Regions from separate parts of the Homo sapiens genome. Here regions 1 and 3 are each linked to region 2. Evidence: fine-mapped expression QTL. A gene starts in region 2. Each other region holds a variant in brackets. All regions are shown on one strand. Distances are between the middles of the regions. Region 1 holds the start of PYCR3 (pyrroline-5-carboxylate reductase 3). Region 2 holds the start of MROH6 (maestro heat like repeat family member 6). Region 3 overlaps TIGD5 (tigger transposable element derived 5).

Region 1 (5,000 bases), 39 kb before region 2:
GAGGCCATGGACTTCCATGGGGAAGTCACCGTATCCTCTGGCTCCAGTGCTGGGGGTTGGGCGGGGGCCCCTTGGGCGGGCTCAGTGGCCACCCGGTGTAGGGCCAGCGTGGGTGGGACACTGCGGAGGGAGGATGCTCACCCTGGCAGGCGGAGGAGCTCTGCTGTGGCTCCCCTGGGAATGGCAGAGGTTCAAGGGCAAGCTGCGGGGGCTGGGGTGGAGGTGCTCTTCTCGCTGTGGCCTTGACAAAGCCTCCAGTTTGATACAACCAAGTCGGATGGGCAGTTTAAGAAGACAGCCAGTAACAGCAAGCTGAGGACCTACCTGCCCGACTTCCGGTTCACACCCTTCAAGCAGGGTGAGCCCTGACCCCACAGCCCTCCACTTGGTGGAGGCCTGCCCCAGCCCCTCCCTCATGCTCGCTACCAGGGCAGAGGTGAGGTGCCCCCTCAGAGCCTGTACTGCCCTGGAGGTGGGACACCAAAGCTCTGAGGGGTGACTTCCCTGTCCCTGGGCCTCCTCCCCCCACTTCCTCCCATGCGGCCCCGACCCTCCCTGTCCATGGCCCTCACCTGCCTGCCTCTGCAGCGGTGAAGGAGACCTGTGCTTGGTTCACTGACAACTACGAGCAGGCCCGGAAGTGAAGCTGGAAGACAGGATCAGGTGCCAGCGGACCATCGGCTGGCAGAGCCCAGCGGCCACCACCCGTCAACCCTGCCAGGAGCTGAGGGCACCACCCAGCAACCTGGGCCTGCATTCCATCCGCTCTGCAGCCCCAAGCATCTTTCCAGTGGGGCCCCCATTCACGTTGGTCCTCAGGGAAACCAGGGTCCCGGGCAGGCCCGGCGCTTTGCTCCCCACACCAGCCCCCTGCGCGTGTCCACTCTGATCCTGCATCCCACTCCCTGGGAGCCAATAAAGTGCATTTTCACAGGCCTGGCCTTGGCAGCTCTGTGCTGAGCCGTCCCCCACACCCAGGGACTGCCCCCTAGCCTGGCCAGTCCCAGGACCCACTATCCCCCTGGCTTACTGTTCAGCCCCCAAGAGCTGGTGACTCCCTGGGGTGGAAAGGCCGCAGAGGCTGGAGATGGGAAGGCACACGTGGGCAGGCAGCAGGCAGGCAGCAGTGAGACTGGTGTGGACTGTCAGCTGGACAAGGATGTGCAGGGCAGGGCCAGTCCCAGCCCCTCCACATGTGGCCACCTGCAGGCCTGAGTAACTTGAGCTCACCCGGACCTCCCTGCCTCAGCCTGAGGGCTCTGGGGAAGCTGGTCTAGTGGGCCAGAAACGTCTAGTGAGCCAGCCGAGCTGAGCCCATGGATGGATATGAGGGGAGGCTGATGATTGGGTGGCTCGGGCTTCCCCTGGCCTGGCCCCTCCTCTCTGTGGCTCTCAGGCTTGGGCGTGGGTCCCCCACCTGGCCTTATCCCATGGAGAGGGACAGGTGCCTGCTGGACAGGTCAGCTCCAGCCACCAGAGGTGGGGTGTCATTGCTCGCCGCCCCCGTCCATTCTCAGAGGGGAGACAGCAAAGTCCAGAATGGTTCCCGGGCCAGTGCCTCAGCCAGGCAGGGTGGCGCTGGGGTATGGACCAGGAGCACTGGGCTCCAGGCCCCGGCTTGCCCGTCGCCCCCTTTCTCAGTGCCTCTCACAGAGGGAGCCCCTATGCCAGAACCCTCTGGTCCACTGCATCCAGGACCCAGATGCCCTCCCTGGCTCCTGGCCCAACTCTGGGCCCACGTCCTCAGGGTCCCTCTCCTGGGCGCCCTGTGCCGTCTTCACGCACATGATGCCTTTTGGCTGCAGGTAGGACCTGCTGCTTCACTTCTTCGTTCATTCCGGCAGCGGTGATGTGTCCTCCCTGTCCCGGCACTGAGTCCAGACCGGTGTGTCCTGCACCCAGCCAACCGCTCACCTCATCTCTCACTGTCCCTTTGTGTCCAGCAAGCCGAGGTGTCCTCCAGGCCTCCCCTGAGACTGGCCCCCTCTTGGGTCAAGGCCTCCCTACCTTTTAGGCCTCAGCTGAGGTGGCCCAGCCTCCAAAACACCTTCCCTGATGGCACCTTCACAGCGCCTCTCGGAGCATCCACCCTGCCCTGCTGGGATTGTTTGTCTGGAAACCTCTGGGAGCCCCGCCTCAACCCCTAACCCTCCCGCTGACACCCCAGGACCTCGAGCTCCAGGAGACGGGTTGGCCTCGTTCACAGTGTATCCCCTGGCCCCAGCCCTTTGTGGATAAAGGCTCTGCCCATGTGGGGGTTCAGGAAAGGCCTCCTGGAGAGGGTGGCGCCTATGTGGCTGCTTGGATCCACCAGGTGAACAGTGGGAAGAAGCCCAGCCAAGAGCAGAGAGGTGCCCTGGACACAAGCCTTGGCTGGCTGGGTGTCCACGTCAGCTGAGGGCTCCCAGCTGATGCTCAGAAGCCCAGCCCGGCATGGGACGGAGAAGCTGAACGGGGCTGGGCCCCTGGGCCTCCTTTTACCCACTGTGGCCCTGGGCACTCAGCCAGCAATCCTCCTTCACCTCGCCTCAGTCCACTTGTTTATGATGAGCTTTGTCCTTATGTATGATGGCATGGCACTGGATGCCTCTGGCCCCTCTCACCTCCCCACAGCCTTGGTCCTGAGCCATCACTGGCCCAGGGGGCCTGGGAGAAAATCCAGGGAGTCTGTGGGAAGGGGCTGGGAGGATCCGAGGTGGCAGGAGATACAGCTGCTGACGCTGTGTGCTGGTGCAAAGTGTCCACCACCCACGTTTCTCGGCTGCAGTGGCCGAAGCAGCCTCCTGGTGGCTTTCTGTCCCTTTCCACCTCATTTGCTTCAGAGCCTT[G/T]ACACACTGGCTGTCCTGCGTGTGTGCTGACTGTAGTCTGTCTACACTGCCACCAAGCAGGGCTGCAGGGTGGGGTCCAGCCTGTCCCATCTGCTGCCGTGGGGTGATCTTGCCCAGGCCCAGAGCAGGGCCCAGAGGCTGCAGCTGCACAGTGAATGTTGAATCAATGAGAGGATTTCATTACTGAAGAGCTTAGAAAATGTCAAAGGCTTGGGCCGGCACGGTGGCTCACGCCTGTAATCCCAGCACTTTGGGAGGCCGAGGCAGGTGGATCACGAGGTCAGGAGATTGAGACCATCCTGGCTAACAAGGTGAAACCCCATCTCTACTAAAAATACAAAAAAATAAGCCGGGCGTGGTGGCGGTCGCCTATAGTCCCAGCTACTTGGGAGGCTGAGGCAGGAGAATGGCGTGAACCCGGGAGACGGAGCTTGCAGCGAGCCCAGATGGCGCCACTGCACTCCAGCCTGGGCGACAGAGCGAGACTCCGTCTCAAAAAAAAGAAAAAAGAAAATGTCAAAGGCTTCAAAAGAAAATAACATATGTAACATGCAGCTTTAGATTGGATGATGAAAAAACCGCACTCAGATCTTCAAGCCTTGTTTTCCTTGTGTCATTAAAAGTGACGAGTACCCCCTCCCCGACTGTCCCCTCCGTCGGTCTCAGGCCCCTGGCCCTGGCCTGCTCTCCGTGACCTGGGTCTCCGCCCCTAGTGCTTCCCCGCAGCTCCACCGTCTGTGGTCGGCGGGGCCTCAGTGACCGCACGCTCTGGACCAGCCCCGCAACCCGCTTCGCTACCCCTCCCCTCCGGAAAACCAACATGTGCTCCTCGCACGCGCGACCGGGACCCCTCCCCGCTCCTCCGGCCTCTCCGAGCGCGAGTACCCCGCCGGCCCCGCCCCTTACGGCCCCGCCCCCAGTTTCTCTCAGCCAATGGGCAGTGAGGGGCGGCATAGCCCTTTCGGGCCAATAAGCAGCGAGAGGCGGGGTTCCCGCGCCTTGCGAACTTGTAGAGTGCGGACAAAAAGCCGGCCGGAGTGTGCCGTCCCAGTAACCAATCGGCGAGGGTGGGGACGGGGAGGCGAGTCCTATTGGAGGGCGGGGGTGGGGCCTAGATCTGTGGGCGGGGCGCGGCCTGTGGATGGGCGGTGAGCGCAGCGGCGTCCGAGGCAACAAGATGGCAGCTGCGGAGCCGTCTCCGCGGCGCGTGGGCTTCGTGGGCGCGGGCCGCATGGCGGGGGCCATCGCGCAGGGCCTCATCAGAGCAGGTGGGGCGGCGCGGGGCTAGGCCTGCGGTCTGGAGTGGGAGCAGCCCCGTGGGAGGTGTCCTGCCGCGAGAGTGGGGCCGGGGGCGCGGGCCCAGCCAACCGGGTCTCCGCTCCGCTGGGCGCAGCCGGGGCCACGCCTGTTTGCTCTTACTTTTTTGACGTGGCTGCGGGAAGATTTGAGTCACACGTGGCTAGGTGCCGCTTCCGTGGCCGGCTTCCTGGCCGCGTGGCCTTGGCCAGGCTCACCTCTTCCAGCCTCTGATTTTCTCTTTGCGCGCCAGCCCCTCTCATGGGGAGCAGCAGGGCTTCTCCCCCAGACACCTTGGCTCTAGGGACACCTGGGCCAGACTATCCATCCTGTGCCAGCAGCACCCCCACGTTGTGACAGCCAAAAATGCCTCCAGACACTGCCGAATGTCCCCTGGGTGGGGGGAGGAGACAGGCAAAATCATCCCCTGTTGAGAAACACTGCTTTATACCCGGAATATTTATGCTGACCATATACTCCTCCAGGCATTTAGAAGCCTCTCTGCAGATTGTGGATAGGGAGAGCTGGGTGACTTTTGACTCTCTGCCTTCAGCCATACTTCAGGGTCCAGAAGAGTCAAGATCAATCGGGAAATAGCTTACTATGAGTCTCAGGAGTCTTCCCTGTGAAACCTGGCAGTACCGCATGCCTCCCAGAGCTGTACAGGTTAAATGAGACATAAATGTCTAGTGTTGAGCTTAGTACTGGTGTGTTTGGCTGCCACTGTCATGATTAATTGCTGTGTTCAGGTTGTGGTGTACACTTGTGCCTTCCTGTTCGACCTTACCAAAATCTAACCCAATCTTTCCACCCCGTACCCGACAAAAGCAGATAATTTCTACCAAGTAGGCATTTAGCCTTTTCTTAGACATTCCA
Region 2 (5,000 bases):
GCAGGCCCTGGTGAACAGTCTGTGTGCGGGGCAGTCCCCCTGAGACTCGGAGCGGGGCTGACTGGAAACAACACGAATCACTCACTTTTCCCCACAGCTTGTCCTGTGTTGTTTGTGTCGTTTGTTCACCCAGCCCACGGGCTGCGCCTCCCGGGCTGCGGCTGGGCTGGAGTCGGGAATCTGAGCTCGAGGTAGCAGGAAGATTTGCATCCCAGTGAAAGCACAGGCCCTGCCGGCGTGGGAGACAGCCCTGTGCTGAAGCCCGAAGGGCAGTGAGGAGTTCCCCGGCTTTGGGTAGGCTGTGGGGAGTCAGATCCCACACTAGAACTACAAAGCCACAGGCAGGGAGGGCTTTGGTGTCTGCCTTGGAGTTGAGGGAGTTGCTGCAGACCTTTCCTTGCTAGAGGCAGGCTGGGGACAGGACAGGGTTGGGGGTAGTGCCAGGTAAGAGGGTCCAGCCGTGGCCCTGGGCTCCCACGCCTGCCTAGGCACTGCCCCCCAGGCTCAGGGTCAGTGAAGACGTCTCAAACTCCCCAAGTCAAAAGGGAGTGCTCAGGTGTCTCCTGCCACTGCTGCTGCCAACCCAGCACCACCCTGGCATCTGGCGTCAGGGACACAGCTCCTGACCCAGCAGCCCACGGAAGGAGAGGAAGAATGGGGAAGAAGTTGAAGCTCCAGGAGATGACTCAGCCCCAGACACCTGGCCAGAGTGGCACTGCACGTGGCTGTGCTGGGCTGGCCCTGCCTCTGCACCAGCAAGTTCCTGATCTCAGGGTTCCGCCAGTTTGGGCAACGTGAGCTTCAAGAGGAACTGCTTGGGGGAGAGGTTCTAGGCTTGGCAGGAAGTGGAGGCTGGGGGCCTGGGCCTCTCTTGTCGAAGCAGCCTGAGGTGGCACAGACAGGCAAGGGTGTGGGGGGAATGCTGACCGCCTGGGGCACTTCCGTCTGCCCAGGCATTCCACCAGACCAGCTCACCTGGCTCCCCGGGCTTCAGGGTGGGCAGCACCACTGTGTGGTTGGCTGAGGGTGGAGGGTGGGGACTTGGAGCAGAGGCCCAGTCCAGCCAGCCCCGGGGAGTACGAGCTAGGAGAGAGATACAGACTCACACACATTGGACAGAACACACCACACCCCAGGCACCCCCAGGGCACCCGCGCACTCCGAGGGGCCCAGCCAGAGTGGCTGTATTCTTCCGTTCTTGCACTGCTGTAAAGAAATACCTGAGACTGGGTAATTTCTAAGGAAGAGAGGTTTAATTGGCCTGTGGTTCTGCAGGTACAGGAAGCATGGCTGGGGAGGCTTCAGGAAACTTACCATCTTGGTGGAAGCGGAAGCGGGCAGGTCTTACATGGCCGGAGGAAGGGGTGGGGCGGTGCCACGCACTTCCAGACAACCAGATCTTGAGAAGTCTTATCATGGGAACAGCACCAAAGGGGGAAGTTGCCCCCAGGATCCAATCACTTCCCACCAGGCCCCACCTCCAGCACTGGGGATTACGTTTCAACATGAGATTTGGCCAAGGACCCAGGACCCAGAGGGGCCTGCACAAGCTCTGGAGGGGCCACCGCTCCTCTGGTGTCTTCACTGCCCCCTCCACACCTCCGGGCTGCCCCAAGCTCACCCAGTCATGCCTGTTGCAAGGTGTCTGACAGAGCCAGCGTGCAGGGGGCGGAGCCAGCGTGCAGGGGGCGGGGCCAGCCCCTAGCCCCAGGCCCAGTGGGGAGCTGACTGCTGCTTGGGGGCTGAATCAGGCCTCGACTCAGGGTGGGGCCCAGACTCCTGGACCCTGCGAGGACCTCCTCAGAGCTGTCCACAACTGCCCTGAGCTCCCTGGTCAACAGGGGCTGGTAGTCAGGGTGGGGGCCCTTCTCCCCCTTTCTTCGTGGATCTGCCAGCTCTTGGGGATCCTGTTCTCAGGGCCCTGGTGGGTAGAGCCACACCACAGGCACTCAGGCTGCAGGTGGCCACTCCCCTCCAGCAGCCCAGGCAGGAGGGCCCCTCAAAGGCCCATTGTAGGCACGTCCGTGTGGCTCCCCAGCCCCCGCAAGCTCACGCTAGCGCACGCCACCACGCCCGTCCGTGGTCCCGCCCGGGGCGGCTTCTAGGTCAGTCCTGGGCACAACTTCGCAGGAGGAGCAGCGGCAGGTGCTGCAGGCAAGGGCCGCCATGGCTGGGGGTGTGTGGGGCCGGAGCCGGGCCCGGGAGGCTCCCGTGGGGGCTCTAACCCTGACAGCACTGACTGAAGGAATCCGGGCCAGGCAGGGGCAGCCCCAGGGACCCCCTTCCGCAGGCCCTCAGCCCAAGTCCTGGGAGGTCAAACCTGAGGCTGAGCCACAGACCCAGGCACTCACCGCCCCCTCTGAGGCAGAGCCTGGACGTGGGGCCACCGTCCCTGAAGCTGGCAGCGAGCCCTGCTCCCTCAACAGTGCCCTGGAACCAGCCCCTGAGGGGCCCCACCAGGTGACGGGGGAGGGAAGGGATGTTGTGCGAACCGGCCTGGGGGTCCTGTGGATGGTAGGTGGAAGGCGGGGTGGCAGGGGGGCGGTGCTGGCCCCGGGGGAGGTCAGCGTGAAACAGGCTGGTGAGCAACAGAGGAGCAAGGGATTTTGTAGGAAGCCAGGTGGGAGGCCGAGGGACCAGGAGGAGAGCTAGGAGAGGTTTGGGCACTTCAGACGCCCCACCCATCCTGCCCTAGGTTCCCCAGAGTTCCTGGGAGGAGGGAGTTCTTGCCGACCTCGCGTTGTACACGGCTGCCTGCCTGGAGGAGGCTGGCTTTGCAGGGACCCAGGCGACAGTGCTCACCCTGTCCTCAGCCCTGGAGGCCCGGGGCGAGCGGTTGGAGGACCAGGTCAGCCTTCACCCACTTCATGCCCTACAGAATCCTGCCGGTTCGGGCACCAAGGTGGTGGGAGGGGCCTGGAGAGCGCAGCCTGACCCTGCCATCTTCAGGCTGCTCCTGCCAGGCGGGATCAGGGTGGGGGTGGAGGTGGGGTGCAGGCCAGAGGGGAATGGACGGTGGAGGAGGCCTGACTGCTGAAGTCTGCCCCCTTCCCCACCAGGTGCATGCTCTGGTGCGTGGGCTGCTGGCGCAGGTGCCCAGCCTAGCGGAGGGGAGGCCCTGGAGGGCGGCCCTGCGAGTGCTGAGCGCACTGGCCCTGGAGCATGCGCGGGACGTGGTGTGTGCGCTGCTACCCCGCTCTCTGCCCGCCGATCGGTAACCCAACCGTCCTGGCCCTGCGGTCCCCACGCGGCTTCCTTCCCTCTTCCCGCTTGGCGGTGGAGTCTGGCCCCAGAAGAGGGAGCTGAAAAGGGGCAGGGCCTCCTTATTCCAGCCCCGCGATGACTCATGCCCCGTATCCATTCCCGCTCCCCTCATTTTTAGCTCCGCAAACTCCCCCCACACTCCTGCCACAGAGTTTCTGATGCTGGGCTCCTCTCTTGGAGCCACCTTCTATCTTCGGGTGGCCTCCCCTGGAGACCGTCCTGGGGTTGGCTCCGGAGTGGGGTGAATGAGGCTGGGGGGCTAACGTGCCTGGACACCCCTGGCTCTTTGGTTAATTGGCCCCAGAAGTTATCTTTGGTTTTATTCTCTGTGGCAATTTTTTTCTTTTTAATAATGCCAGGTTTGTTTCACTGTCGCTGACCCAACGGGACTCCCAGTGGGTCCCCACCCTGCAGCTCAGCTTGAGATAGGCTATGTTGTGGTCTGCACAATTAACCCTTCATTTGTTTCTCTGAGATTTGGGGATGGGGGGAGATGGGAGGGGTTTCCTGCCCCTCCCCTGCTGGAGTCCTACTGGCTGCCTCCACCCTGGCTGGGGACTCCCTACATTCCCTGGACACCCACCCATCTCTTGTCTCACACCAGCCCCCTCCAAACCCTCAGGGTAGCAGCCGAGCTCTGGCGCAGCCTAAGCCGTAACCAGCGTGTAAATGGGCAGGTGCTGGTGCAACTGCTGTGGGCGCTGAAGGGTGCTTCGGGGCCGGAGCCCCAGGCACTGGCGGTAGGTGGCTCCAGCCATTACCAGGGGGTGGGGGCGGGGGTGGGGGGTGGCGAGGAGCGGGGAGGATGGGCATAGGGAGTTTGCACCTAGGTAACTGCTCCTGGAATGTCCCATGCGTGTCTGAGGCTGTCCCCATCCTGTTGACAGCACGCCTGTCCCTCTGCTGCCCAGTGCAGCTCCAGGCGTGCCCCAGGCCTGAGTGGGCCACTTGCTCCACAGGCCACACGTGCTCTTGGGGAGATGCTGGCTGTTTCGGGCTGCGTGGGAGCCACGAGGGGCTTCTACCCACATCTGCTGCTTGCGCTGGTCACACAGCTGCACAAGCTGGCCCGCAGCCCGTGCTCCCCCGACATGCCCAAGATTTGGGTTCTGTCCCACCGAGGGCCACCACATAGCCATGCCAGGTGAGAGGCAACACCAGGTTACGTGGGGCGGGCCAGCATGCTGTCACCCTCTCAGCTCCCACTGCCCACCTGCTCACTGTCCCCACCACCAGCTGTGCTGTGGAGGCCTTGAAGGCGCTGCTCACCGGGGATGGAGGCCGCATGGTGGTCACGTGCATGGAGCAGGCAGGAGGCTGGAGGAGGCTGGTGGGAGCCCACACCCACCTGGAGGGCGTCCTGCTGCTGGCCAGGTGAGGAGGGTGAGGAGGGGCCCCAGGGTGTCACACCAGGAAGAGAGTCGTTGCTGGCCAGGTGCTGGGCAGGGGGACAGGGAAAAGGCAGGGGCATGAGGGTGGTGTTGGGATGGGGTCTTCTCGAGGAGAAAGGCCGCCAAACGGAGCGAGAGCTCCCATTTCCACCCACCCCAGTGCTATGGTGGCACATGCCGACCACCACCTGCGAGGCCTCTTCGCAGACTTGCTCCCTCGGCTTCGCAGCGCGGACGACCCGCAGCGTCTCACGGCTATGGCCTTCTTCACAGGGGTGAGCCTGCTTCCCGGATGGGTGGTGAAGGGTGACCCTGGACTTGATCCCTGAATCGCAGCGGCCTGCA
Region 3 (6,164 bases), 31 kb before region 2:
TACGTCGACATCCACACTGGCCTCAGTGGCAGTGGCGTGGCCTTCGTGAGTATTGCCTCGTCCATCCCCGGCCCCACCCTCGGCAAAGAGGGGGCCCACCCCAGTCCCTCTGACAGCCTCTGCCCTCAGAGTCCAACCTTGAGGCCTGCGTGGTTGCTCCCCAGGCCCACTGGGAGCTCTGCTTGTCCCCGGGACTTCACTGCCTTGGGGATCTTTGAGGCCAGCCCCTTTGCAGACCGTTGGGCTCAGGCCTTGGTTCTGGCCACCCACGGCTACTGCTCTGGGCATTGTTCCTGAAGGTCCTGAGCCCCCAGGCTTTGACACCTATCCCCCCCAACCACCATGCCGCGGCTACAGGTGTGTGCATTCTCCGAGGCCCTGGCTGAAGGAGCCGTCAAGATGGGCATGCCCAGCAGCCTGGCCCACCGCATCGCTGCCCAGACCCTGCTGGTGAGTGAGGGTGGCCCCTGGGGAACATCGGGAAGGCCCAGGCCTGTACCTCTTCCAGTGCGCAGGGAAACAGCAGGCTCGAGAAGCTGGGGCCAAGGTTGGGGGATGCAACGAGGGCAGGCCGCACAGTGGGGACCGCACCACCTCCCCCCGTCACCAGGCCCTAACGCTCTCCTCAGGGGACGGCCAAGATGCTGCTGCACGAGGGCCAACACCCAGCCCAGCTGCGCTCAGACGTGTGCACCCCGGGTGGCACCACCATCTATGGACTCCACGCCCTGGAGCAGGGCGGGCTGCGAGCAGCCACCATGAGCGCCGTGGAGGCTGCCACCTGCCGGGCCAAGGAGCTCAGCAGAAAGTAGGCTGGGCTCTGGCCATCCTTTCCTGCCTCTGTGCCCCTGCCTCTCCCTGTGTCCCTTCCCCTGAGGACTGCGGCTCCCTCCCTCCTGCATGAGGGTCTCCTACTGCTCCTTCTCCCCTTGCACAGGGAAATGCAGGGGGCAGGACTTGGGAGGTTCCAGCAGGCGGGGGAGCCCCGACCAGTGGGGACACTCCTCCCTCCCCAGTGAGCAGAAGGCACCGTGGTGGTGGCTCTGCCCCTTGCTGCAGTGAGCCCACCTTGCTGCAACATTGGTTCTGAGGGGCCCAAGAGATGGCGTCTTGGTCATTTGCCCGCATGGTTGGGCAGTTGGTTGAGGCCATGAACAGAACTTACGGTAACAGGCACGGCTGGCCCAATGCCTGGTCTGGAGCTGGAGCTTGCCTTTGGCTTTCCAGGTGGCTCCGTGCAGCTACAGCCAGGCCGGCTGCCTCATCTCAGCTCTAGGGGGCACGAGCCATATGGGGTCTGCACAAGAGACCCTCTCCCCTGCAGTAAAGCCAGGGGCCCTGGCCTGATGGGGCCCCCATGGGGAGCTGGAGCCTGCCCTGCAGCCTGGAGAAGAGGGTGGCTGTGGTGGGCGTGCTCATCCCCTGCTAAGGAGCAGGAGCTGCTGGGCCAGGTCTGCGGCAGTGCTGGGGTGGCACCAGGTGGGCAGTGGTAGGTGGGGTGGCTTGAGGTCTGGGAGGGTGGCCCTGGCCAGCCAGGACACATGCAGACCCCTGGCTTTAGTCTGGATACAGGCTCCCTCTTTCCTCCCAATCCTAAGCTCCTGACAAGTGGCCAGGTGGCTCTGGGCCCTCCTGCCCCGTGCCTAGGTCAGGGGTCCTGGAATACCCCGTAGCTCTGGCACCACCACACTGGCCTCTGATGGCAAGACTTGGCCCCTCCACCTGTCCCTAACGGACGGCAGGTCAGGAAAGCCAGGACTCAGGGGAGAAGCAAACCCCCAGGATTGAAGGCTAGGGTTCTAGGGCCTTTGGGTGGGGAGGGCCCGGGCCGGACAGCCTCAGCTCCGTCCCCTGCCCCACAAGATTCACCTGGGCCTCCAGTCCCACGCTGGCCCCAACTGCTGCAGCTCTCGGCTTCCGCCCAACAGCCTCTGGAGGTGAGGCGGGAGCATGCCCTCAGCGAGGCTGGGCGGCGGGTCCTGCTGTGCCATCTCCCTGTGCGCCTGAGCAGATCAATCCACCAGTGCAAAACAGGGCTAACGGCACCTGCAGGACAGCAGCACGCTCCATCCCTCATGCTCAGCTGCCTCTGCGGCCACGGACTTCTGCCCTTCATCTGCTCTCTCTTACTCTCCTGAGCCTAGCCCGTCCGTAAGCTCCCTCCCCTGCCTGGTTCCCAGGGCAGGCTGACTCAGTTGACTGCTTGGTCCAAGCCTGGCCCTGGCACTTGTCAGGGTCAGCCTAAGGAGATGGGAATAAAGAGGCCAGAGAGCACCAAGTGAGCTCATGTTTCACCAGAGGTGGATAAAACCAAGTTCTGGGCTGGGCCCAGTGGCTCACATCTGTAATTCCAGCACTTTGGGAGGCCGAGGCGGGCAGATCACAAAGTCAGGAGTTTGAGACCAACCTGACCAACATGGAGAAACCCCATCTCTACTAAAAATACAAAATTAGCTGGATGTGGTGGTGCGTGCCTGTAATCCCAGCTACTTGGGAGGCTGAGGCAGGAGAATTGCTTGAATCCAGGAGGCGGAGATTGCAGAGAGCCAAGATCATGCCACTGCACTCCAGCCTGGGTGACAGCAAGACTCTGTCTTGGAAAAAAAAAAAAAGAAGGTCCAATGCCTGCCCCATAAGTTGAGGCCTGGAACCTTGGTCAAGCACAGGTGTCAGCCGAAGGGGGTGCTGGCACTGTGGACAGCAGAGGTCTCCCCATGCCTGCTACAGGCCTCTACATCACCTGGGGGCTTTGTAGGGCATGGAATTGCAGTTTCCCCTGCACGCTGTCACCCCAGGGGACTGTATGCCAAGCCTGGGCAGGCCTGGGAGCCTGGGGTCTGGTGCAGGCGGCCCCCTGAAGGAAGGTGGACAGCCCTTCTGACGGCCACCTGCATTCACACCAAGCCCATCTGCAAGGAGAAATCATTGACTTTGCACCAACACCTGTCTCCCCCTGGGACCTCTGACAAGCCCTGGGCACTAGGTGAGCTCAGCTCGGGAGGTGGAGATCCCAAGCCAGCCACTCCTGGCCCAGCTGGTGAGGGCCTGTGACAAAGACACGGGCTCAGTTCTCGGCACGGCAGGGAGCGTTGTGGTGAGCCAGGCCTCCCCTGTGCCTTCTACTTCCAGGTGAAAACTGTTCTTCAAGACAGAAAACGATGGATATGATTACGGTATCTTTGATCAATGTTCCACTTTTATGCCCTATGCCCCAACTGTTAATCTAGGGGGTATTCCTGATCCAAGCGTTGGATCAAGAGTTTAAAAATAAGACTTCAAAACAGGGATGCTCATGAAGTGGACATGTCCAGCCTTTATTAGATAAAGCCACTGGGCCCATCTGACCAGGCGAGCTCAGCTGTAAACAAGCTCGCCAGTTAGAGGAAGGGCCCTCAACAGAGCATGACCC[C/T]ACAAGCCTAGGGACTCCGACATGCTGTTGGGGCTGCTCCCCATGGGTGTCTCAACTAGGTAGGTAAGGGGTTGGGGTCTCTGCAGGACCCCCCCGTCTGGGGGTGCTCCCCTTCCTTTCCTACCACAGTGTGATGTTTCATCCGCAGCCCAGTGGACATCGAGGGGGTCCCCCAAGCCTGCAGGTCCTTGGGCCAAGGCAGTGGCCTCGTCCCCCTGAAAACGCGGGTCGGGTGGTTTCAACAAAACCTGCACTCATCTTTCCCTCCTCAGCGCCTTCCCTTCTCCAGCCCCCACAAGCCCAGGAACTCTGACAATGATGCTGACACGGGGGTCACTAACTGGAAGAGCAGTGAACAGGAGCTGGGGGCTCTTGGGGGCCATCTGAGCTGAGGACAGCTGGCTGTACCTCCGAGGCCACAGGCACCCCCACCCACCCCTGCGCCTGCAGGGAATGTGCAGAATCTGCCAGAGCGGAGGCCAGAGCCCGCAGGCAGCCACGGCTGTTAGAGGAAGCAGATGCAGCCTCACCCCAGCCCACGTCTGTCACCACAGCCAGGGCCTGGCAGGCGATGGCACCCGCGCAGCTTTGGGAAAGAACACTTGGCCTCCCAAAGGGTTCTGCCACCCCTGGGGGCCGCTACAGCCACCAACCCTGGGGTCTTTCCATCACTTCAGACACTGAGCAGAACCCAGAGAGGGTTAGTGAGCTGCAGGTAGGGCTGGGACGGGGCCCCAGGTTCCAGCCCAGGGTCTCAGGGATCCATGGCTGGCACTGCCCACAGGGCCAGGCATGGGCAGAGCAGCCTTCTCAGCAGCGGGGCCCAGCGGCCAAGCCTCTGTCACACAGCACCCTGTGCCAGCATGCCCCGTGCTAGGGAGAAGATGCTTTTTAAGCCCTCTTTAGGGGGTATTTCCCGTCTAGTAAGTGCCAGCAGGCAGACCCACTCTTGACAGGCTCCTAATGTCCCCACCAGCGTGCACCTGCACTTTTTTTTTTTTTTTTTTGAGACAGAGTCTCGCTCTGTCGCGCAGACTGGAGCGCGGTGTTGTGATCTTGGCTCACTGCAATCTCTGCCTTCTGGCTTCAAGCATTTCTCGTGCCTCAGCCTCCTGAGTAGCTAGGGTTACAGGCACCTGCCACCACGCCCAGCTAATTTTTGTATTTTTAGTAGAGACGGGGTTTTCACCATGTTGGCCAGGCTGGTCTCGAACTCCCAATCTCAGGTGATCCACCCGCCTCAGCCTCCCAAAGTGCTGGGATGACAGGTGTGAGCCAACGTGCCTGGCCTCTTTTATCTTATAGCAAAAATTAGTGCTGCCTTGTTTATAGAAAGTGGCCATTGAGGGACTGGGGGACAGGCCACAGCCACCCCGATGAGAGGAGCGGGCCTGCCCTCACCGACACCAGCCTCCTGGGACCCGGGCCAACAAAAGGGCTGAGATGGGAAGAAAGGTTGGAAATGAAAGCCTCGCCAAAGACGCAGCGGCAATGAGTAGTTGGGCTGAAGGGCAGCGCCACGGGCCGCCCAGACTACAGACAAGGCCTGGCTATGCAGCCCTCACTGGCACCGCGGCCGTGAAGTCAGCTTCTCCTCAGAGCCCTGGAGGCAGGCCTGGCAGAGCAGAGGTGGTGTCCCCGCCTTGGGGGCCTGTGCCCCTGGGAAGGTGCTGGCCCAAATGTCTCAGGCTTTCTGCAGCCCATCCCCAGCAGTTCAGGCCAGAGGCTCTTCCTGCAGGTGGCGGTGGCCTGATGGGCTCAGCAGGCATGCCTGGAGCTGCTGCCCTGAGCTCTGCTCAGGGAGTCTGTTTCTTCTTCCCCAAATTTCCACGGCCTCCCTGAGCTCTCAGATTTTGAGATATAGATATATACATATATATGTATATATTTCTTCACTTGCGGGCAGTTCCAAGGAACTGTTTGTTCCTGGACCTGTATAAAGGTCACTTTTGGGGGACACCCTCCAGCTGCCCCACTGCCAAGCTGGTGCACAGCCCTTCCCTTCCCCGTGCAGGCCTCCAGCCTACCCCTGCACTCCACAACTCTGGGTTTTCAAGGTTCCCTCTCCTAGGAGGACACTGGGGGCAGATGGGGACGAGGGGTCAACACCTGGAGGCAAGCAGGCCAGCTCCCTGCCCCTCACACCAGCTCGGGCAGCATCTCTGCAAAGGCAGTTCCCACCCTACCTGAGGAGGCATGGGCATCCCTGGCCCCAGTCCAACCAGAAGGACTGTAGGTCTAGACCTGGCCAGAGCAGAACAGAACCAGGGTTTGACAGGCCCTGGGGCCCTTTCCTCCTTTCAAAGTAGGCCTCCCAGGAGCAGCTTGTCAGCCACATCCTTGGCAGTCCCAGGAGAGGCAGAAAAGTCTGAGGGTGGGGAGGAGAGCCCACAGAGGGTGGCACTGCGTATTGCCCTGGGGGCTAATGCCAGGGCCTGCTTCCAGGTAAGTCAGGTGGCTCCAGGCCCTGGGACTGGACAGAATGGTCTGTGGCTGATGAGGAAGCAGGGGAAACTCTCCTGCCGTTGGCCAAGTCACCAGGGCCCAAAGCCAGGCAGCTGCCAATCCCACGGAATAAGAGATCTGTTCAGTTTTCTTAGGGAAAACTAAAAATCCAAGGAAACGGAACTCTACACCTCCCTGCTGCACCCAGAACCTAATACAGGGCTCCACCCCTCCCACTCCACAGTGATGCTCCAGTACCTGGGGCCTCTGACCTCCAGAGAAACCGCAGGGCGGCCCGAGACCAGCCCAC

The links. PIP is the estimated chance that this variant, and not a neighbour inherited with it, causes the effect.
Region 1: its variant is fine-mapped to the expression of MROH6 in spleen (GTEx, PIP 0.99).
Region 3: its variant is fine-mapped to the expression of MROH6 in whole blood (TOPMed, PIP above 0.99).

What each region holds. Positions count from the first base shown.
Region 1 is chr8:143,608,554-143,613,553 of GRCh38, reverse strand. It overlaps PYCR3 (pyrroline-5-carboxylate reductase 3), which reads left to right and starts at 3,979. Exons shown (of 6, transcript NM_023078.6): 1 at 3,979-4,096. The coding sequence starts at 4,006. GFUS (GDP-L-fucose synthase) reads left to right here. Exons shown (of 11, transcript NM_003313.4): 9 at 1-30; 10 at 259-358; 11 at 589-936. The coding sequence ends at 644. RefSeq lists an enhancer at 2,372-2,871. The variant G/T (reference allele first, on the strand shown) is at 2,829.
Region 2 is chr8:143,569,881-143,574,880 of GRCh38, reverse strand. It overlaps MROH6 (maestro heat like repeat family member 6), which reads left to right and starts at 2,109. Exons shown (of 14, transcript NM_001100878.2): 1 at 2,109-2,460; 2 at 2,696-2,848; 3 at 3,060-3,214; 4 at 3,887-4,004; 5 at 4,224-4,408; 6 at 4,501-4,638; 7 at 4,816-4,930. The coding sequence starts at 2,167. It overlaps NAPRT (nicotinate phosphoribosyltransferase), which reads left to right. Exons shown (of 13, transcript NM_145201.6): 13 at 1-96. The coding sequence ends at 43. RefSeq lists an enhancer at 2,751-3,600.
Region 3 is chr8:143,600,348-143,606,511 of GRCh38, reverse strand. TIGD5 (tigger transposable element derived 5) reads right to left here. Exons shown (of 1, transcript NM_032862.5): 1 at 3,288-6,164. PYCR3 (pyrroline-5-carboxylate reductase 3) reads left to right here. Exons shown (of 6, transcript NM_023078.6): 4 at 1-45; 5 at 358-450; 6 at 630-3,302. The coding sequence ends at 812. Among named protein-coding and RNA genes, the nearest start is that of TIGD5, 5.6 kb to the right of the region's middle. The variant C/T (reference allele first, on the strand shown) is at 3,410.